2 separate regions of the Homo sapiens genome follow, and region 2 is linked to region 1. The links come from fine-mapping of genetic effects on gene expression. Tissue or cell type: testis. Region 1 holds a variant in brackets; the other region holds the start of a gene. All regions are shown on one strand. Distances are from middle to middle.

Region 1 (2,910 bases):
AGTCATGTGATCTTGGCACACTGCAACCTCTGCTTCCCAGGCTCAAGTGATTCTCCCACTTCAGCCCCCTCAGGTGCACACTACTGTGCCTGGCTAATTTTTCTTTTCTCTATTTTTAATTTTTTGTAGAGATGGGTTAAATCATATTGCCCAGGCTGGCCTTCTTTTCCTAAGTTCAAGTGATCCTCCTGCTTCAGGCTCCCAAAGTGCTGAGATTACAGGCGTGAGCAACTGTGCCCAGCCCACTGTAATTTTATGGGGACCAAACTTCTGGACATGTGGAGACGGGAAGGAAAAGGATCTGAAAATAAGATAAAAAACATAAATTAATTATTCAGTAAGAGGGAATAGAAGAAGACAGGCCTGGAATAATCTAGTCTCACCACCTGGCTGTCTTGACCAGCAGTTATTCTAGTAAACCTACTGCCATGAGCAAAGAGAAGGCCTTTATCAATATCATCATCATTGGCCATGTGGACTCTGGCAAGTCCACCACCACTGGGCCTCTCACAAATGTGAGGGCATTGACAAGAGAATCATTGAGAAGTTTGAAAAGGAGCCGGCAGAGGTAAGGCTCCCTCTGTGTCTGGAAGTGTGTGGAGGGGAAGCCTCTTTCTTGTGGGTAGTTCTAGCTACAGAGTACAGAAAACCATGCACTCTGCAAGCCTAAAATGCTGCTGTTTGAGGTAGATTTATCTGCTGTCCATCAGTGCATTTATTCTCCCACCCCTTCCCAGGTGGGCGAGGGCTCCTTCAAGTATGCCTGGGTGTTGGACAAGCTGAGGGCAGAAAGAGAACGCAGGATCACCATTGATATCTCCCTGTGGAAGTTCAAGACTAGCACATACTACAGCATTATCATCGATGCTCCAGGCCACAGAGACTTCATCATGACCATGATCAGGGGCACTTCCCAGGTAAAGCAGTCCATGCCTTCAGAAACATTCCTATAGAGGGGGAAACTCAAGATTTATTTCTGAAGCTTGGAGAAGGAAGGTATCATAAGGCTTGTAAGCCTTTTCCTCACCTATGGCCATCATCCATCAATCCTGAAAGAATTAGGGAGGACAGGACTGAAAGTCCCATCACTCTCATGAAGCTCAGATCCTGTTGTCCTGGGGGGGCCTAGAGGGACCAGGTTTTCTTACACTCAGACTAGTAGATCAGTTGGTCCAGAAAGAAGGGACTAAAAGCTGATTTAGATGAGATTAAATGAGAGGAACTGGGAAGCAGGACCCCCATGCACCGCATCTAGGGTGGTCCATGAATCCCATTTGGCCATCTGAGTTCTGGAGGGCATTCCCCAGCTTTACAATGGGATTCGGAACCTCCCAAAGTCAGTCCGATGCCCCCTCCCGCAACCCGGTGTGTTTGTGTATCCCCGCGGTGCAGGCCGACTGCGCGGTGCTCTTCGTGGCAGGCGGCTGGGCGGAGGCCGGCATCTTCAAGAACCCGCAGACCCACGAGCTCGCGCTGCTGGCCAAC[T/G]GGCGGGACGTCACGCAGCTCATCGTGATCTTCAACGAAATTGACTCCACCGAGCCCGCCTACAGCGGCTCGCGCCTCCAGGTGATCACCAAGGAAGTAAGCGCCTGCATCAAGAAGATCGGCTACAACTGGCTGCCTGGCCTTCAGTCCATCTCGAGCTGGCACGGCGACAGCATGCTGGAGCCCAGCACTGACGCGAGTGTGGCGCGGGTCGGCAGGGACAGCCGGGGTGGAGGCGAGCGGACCACACCCCGGACTCACCTCCCCTCGACATCCCGAAGATGCCCTGGTTCAAGTGCTGGAAGGTAGAGTGGAAGGAGGGGAACGCCATGGGGGTGACTCTGCTGGAAGCTTTGAACTCCATCCTCCCAACAACGCGCAGGGTCGACAATCCCCTGAGGCTGCCCCTGCAAGATGTGTACAAGATGGGAGGTGACCCAGGCCTGAGTGGAGCTGAGGGTAGACTACTCTGTTAGGGATTCTGGAGTTGATCCTTAATTGAATCCCCGAGGGAGTCCACAGGTGTATGATTGCCAGGGTTCAAATCCTGACTCCACCTCTTCCCTGAGCAAGGATAAAGTGGAAAAGCACCTAGCATTTCCAAGCTATCCACTACACAGTTTTAAACAGTCAGAGATCCATCTAGTGCTTTCTACCAATTCCACAGGTGGTCCTTTGTCCTTGAACTCAAAAGCCAAGGGGCCTCCCAGGAAGCCAGTTCTCACTGGGTGTGTCTGGGACTGACTTCCCTTCCTGGGTTGAACAGGCATTGGCAGTGTGCCAGTGGGCCGTGTGGAGGGTGGCTTTTTCAAATTCGGGATAGTGGTCACATTTGCCCCCAGCAATGTCACCACTAAGGTTAAATCTGTGGAGATGCACCATGAGGTCCTGGCGGAAGCCCTGTGGTTAACAATGTAGGATTCCATGTGAAGAATGCAACCACTGCTTGGCTCTGCCCTGGGAACTGTGGATGCAAATATGAGTGACACAGCGCCTGTCTTTGAGGGGGCTCCCACTCTGGTAGGGGAAACAGATGACTACAAAGGAGCTATTTCCGTGTAATGAACGAGGGCTGCAAAGGGGGCACACTGGGGAGATTCCCATGTGTATGGGGAGGTGAGGACACCTTCAGAGAGGAGAAGCTGTATCTGGTCTTCAAGATGAGACAGCACCTCAGGGCCCACATGGGAGGAGGTGCTTGCCAGGCAGAAGAATCGGAGGTGGAGTCCTGTGCTCTTTTTGCCTGGAGGGCAGGAAATGGTGGGAGAAAGTATTGGCTAAAGAGGTGAGGGGAAAAGGGAGGATCATAATGCATGAACTCCTCAGGTTTAATTTTCCTACACTGTAAATCTAATTATATAATCCCTTTGCTTAAATTTTCTGATTACTCTTTTTATTTATTTATTCATTTATTTGGAGATAGGG
Region 2 (2,910 bases), 54 kb after region 1:
AGCCCCTCCGTCTCCACTGCATCCTTCCTTCTTTTTTTCCCCCCTTTAAAGGAGAGGGGCAATATAACTTACGTAAAATAACATATGTAAAAATAACAATCCAGAAATTTTTTGGTGTTTGTTTCTCAATACCCACCCTCAAATGTAACCACTTTTCTGATTTCTATTAGAAAATAGATTAATTTTCCCTGATTTTGGACTTCCTATAACTGGAATAATATGGTATATATTTTTTGGTATCTGGCTTCTTTTGTTCAATACAACATATTTGTGATTAATCCATGCTGTTGTGTAGGTCAATCATCTTTATTGCTGAGTAGTATTCCATTGCAAGGTCATACCATAATTTGCTTATCCATTCTTCTGTTGGTGGAAATTGCAGGTGTTACCAGATTTGAGCTCCTATAAACAAGGCTGCTCTGGACATTCTTGTACAGGTCTTTTGGTGGAAATATACTTTCCTTTTCATTTGGAACTTCTGGTCATAGAATAGGTGTATATTTAACTTTATTAGGAGCTAACAGACAGCTCTTCAAAGTGGCTATACCATTTTGCATTCTCATAAAAGCAGTGTATGAGGGTTCTGGTTGCTTAACTTCCTCCACAAATATAGGATAATCAGTCATTTTGATTTTAGTGATTCTAATGGGTGTGAAAAGTGCTTTGGGGTCATAAGATTAGCCCCCATTAGAAGTTATCTATTATTATTATCACCAGATCACGACTCAAACATTTTTAATAAAGGGCACCTGAGTTCCTTCTTTATTGTAATCATGCCTCAATCTTCTTCTTGTCCTAACCCCTCCAAAAACCACATCATAACCCCCAATATTGGCCATACATCTATTTAAGTATTATGTGTAAATATATGTTGGTAAATATGTTAAAGTATTGGCTTTATAAAGAGGACCCAGTAGAGACATCATCAATGCCCCCCACAATACCCAGCGAGTGCTTGGAAAATGGCTAGGTTCGTATTTTTCTGCAGCTCCCTAGAATATAACAGTCTACCCTACTTTGTTCTGGGCTCTGTCCCCACATCTTAGGAGTTGCATTCTCTTTCGGGCTGCACAGCCCTATGGGACGTCAAACCTTGCCTTTCTTGACAACTGATGGGAGGTCCCTACCATCAGCACCTTCTCCAGTCTATCAACCTGGGTTGGACGTCCCTACCTAGACACAGCTTCTCTTGGGGACGCTGTGGAGGAAATCGGGGTCTCGGGTGTGGCTATATACTCAGGGACAGAAGCTAGACGCGCTCCGCAGCCTGAGGTGGGCCAGGCACCTGCTGGGCTCGGGGTGGCAGAGACAGCTGTGCGGTCCCAGCTGTTCCTGAGCGCACCGCTGAGGGACGCACTCCCTTCTACAACGGCTGCACCCCAAGTCCTCCTCCCATTCCTATATTTTTCTCCATCCCCTGCCCACGCTTAATTAGTTATCTCCTCCAGACCCCTCCCCACTGGCCTCCTCCCTTGCACACGCGAGCTGGGCAGGGAAGAGAGCGCCCGGCTCAGTACTGCGCGCGCCCTGCGGCTGTCCGGGGCCGCGCGGTGGCCAAAGCACAGCGCGGGAGAGTCTGCGATGTCAGAGAACGGCTCCTTCGCCAACTGCTGCGAGGCGGGCGGGTGGGCAGTGCGCCCGGGCTGGTCGGGGGCTGGCAGCGCGCGGCCCTCCAGGACCCCTCGACCTCCCTGGGTGGCTCCAGCGCTGTCCGCGGTGCTCATCGTCACCACCGCCGTGGACGTCGTGGGCAACCTCCTGGTGATCCTCTCCGTGCTCAGGAACCGCAAGCTCCGGAACGCAGGTGAGCACCATTCCTGATGCTGGGTGCTGGCATCGGGCCCTTCCTTGTCTTCTGATCTTGTCCCTGACCCCGGGATATGCGCTGCCTTTTCCCTCCTCAGCCCGGGCTCCCCTTTCCCTTCACTCTAACCTATTCCTTAAGTTTGACTCTGCACTCAAAAGTTAGGGTGAGTTTTGCCCCTCCGAAGTGCGGCTGCCCAGGACGCGCTTGGCACAGAGGGAATTGCGGAAAGTTTTACTGGCGCGCTTTTTGGCCGGGCGCCGGCGCTGTGGGAACCCACGCTGCTGGATGCCATCGCTACCCCGTCGCGCTCCAATGCGTGTCTTTCCAGAGGTGCCCACATCAGGCCACAGAAATCTCACCACCTGTACTTGACATCCCACTTCCTTCCTTGCCAAGCACTGTAGCTTTATGTAGTAGTCGCTTAGAAAATCCTTGCTGAAAAAATGAGTTAATCAATGGAAGCATTTCAGTAGGTTTTGTGTCAAAAACTTATCTCCAGGTCATCTGAAGACCCAATTCCAGTTGACGGAGAGTAAATGCAGAAATTGCAGATTCTGCTTGGACTGAACTAAATTGCTTTGAAATATTGTGGTCTTTTCCGAAGACTGGGAATTCCTGGGATTAACTGTGAAAATTAAAGCAATGATTTGGCTAAATCGTGTTGTAATCCTGAAAATATTTTTCCTATTTCAATCCACTCTCATTTCAATATTCCCCTAGTCAGGTCTTCAAAGAAACAAAACCAGAGTGGGGGGCAGTATCTGAACTCTAGCCCTCACAGGTCATGGGGCATGATGACCACTTCAGCTTAGGAAGGAGCTCAGTCACCTGTTTGTTAATTTTGCAGTTTCTTCAAGTTGGGCCTTGGGAGCAAATTCAAATATTAGAGTGAATTAAAATGGAAAGATAGCAGCAGTAAAACAACCATATAGCTTAAAAATGCTTTTCTAAGGAGTCAGACCATTTTTAGCAAATAGTAATATGTATTTGGTGTGGCCTGTGACTCTAGAAATTTTTTTTTTTTGAGATGGAGTCTCTCACTCTGTCACCCAGGCTGGAGTGCAGTGGCATGGTCTAGGCTCACTGCAACCTCTGCCTCCCAG

Which allele goes with the higher level. Alleles are on the strand shown, and positions count from the first base shown. SD is a standard deviation of normalised expression in the study named.
As copies of G replace T in region 1, the expression in testis of the gene that starts at base 1,507 in region 2 goes up (large effect, 1.1 SD a copy in GTEx).

The links. PIP is the estimated chance that this variant, and not a neighbour inherited with it, causes the effect.
Region 2: MTNR1B starts here. The variant in region 1 is the best candidate, but not a certain one, in a credible set for the expression of MTNR1B in testis (GTEx, PIP 0.67).

What each region holds. Positions count from the first base shown.
Region 1 is chr11:92,914,175-92,917,084 of GRCh38, forward strand. It overlaps LINC02746 (long intergenic non-protein coding RNA 2746), which reads right to left and starts at 1,454. Exons shown (of 3, transcript NR_135091.1): 1 at 1,028-1,454; 2 at 849-947; 3 at 1-301. It also overlaps the pseudogene EEF1A1P49. The variant T/G (reference allele first, on the strand shown) is at 1,486.
Region 2 is chr11:92,968,145-92,971,054 of GRCh38, forward strand. It overlaps MTNR1B (melatonin receptor 1B), which reads left to right and starts at 1,507. Exons shown (of 2, transcript NM_005959.5): 1 at 1,507-1,804. The coding sequence starts at 1,582. It overlaps LOC124902733 (a long non-coding RNA gene), which reads left to right. Exons shown (of 2, transcript XR_007062838.1): 2 at 1-771. RefSeq lists an enhancer at 2,055-2,554.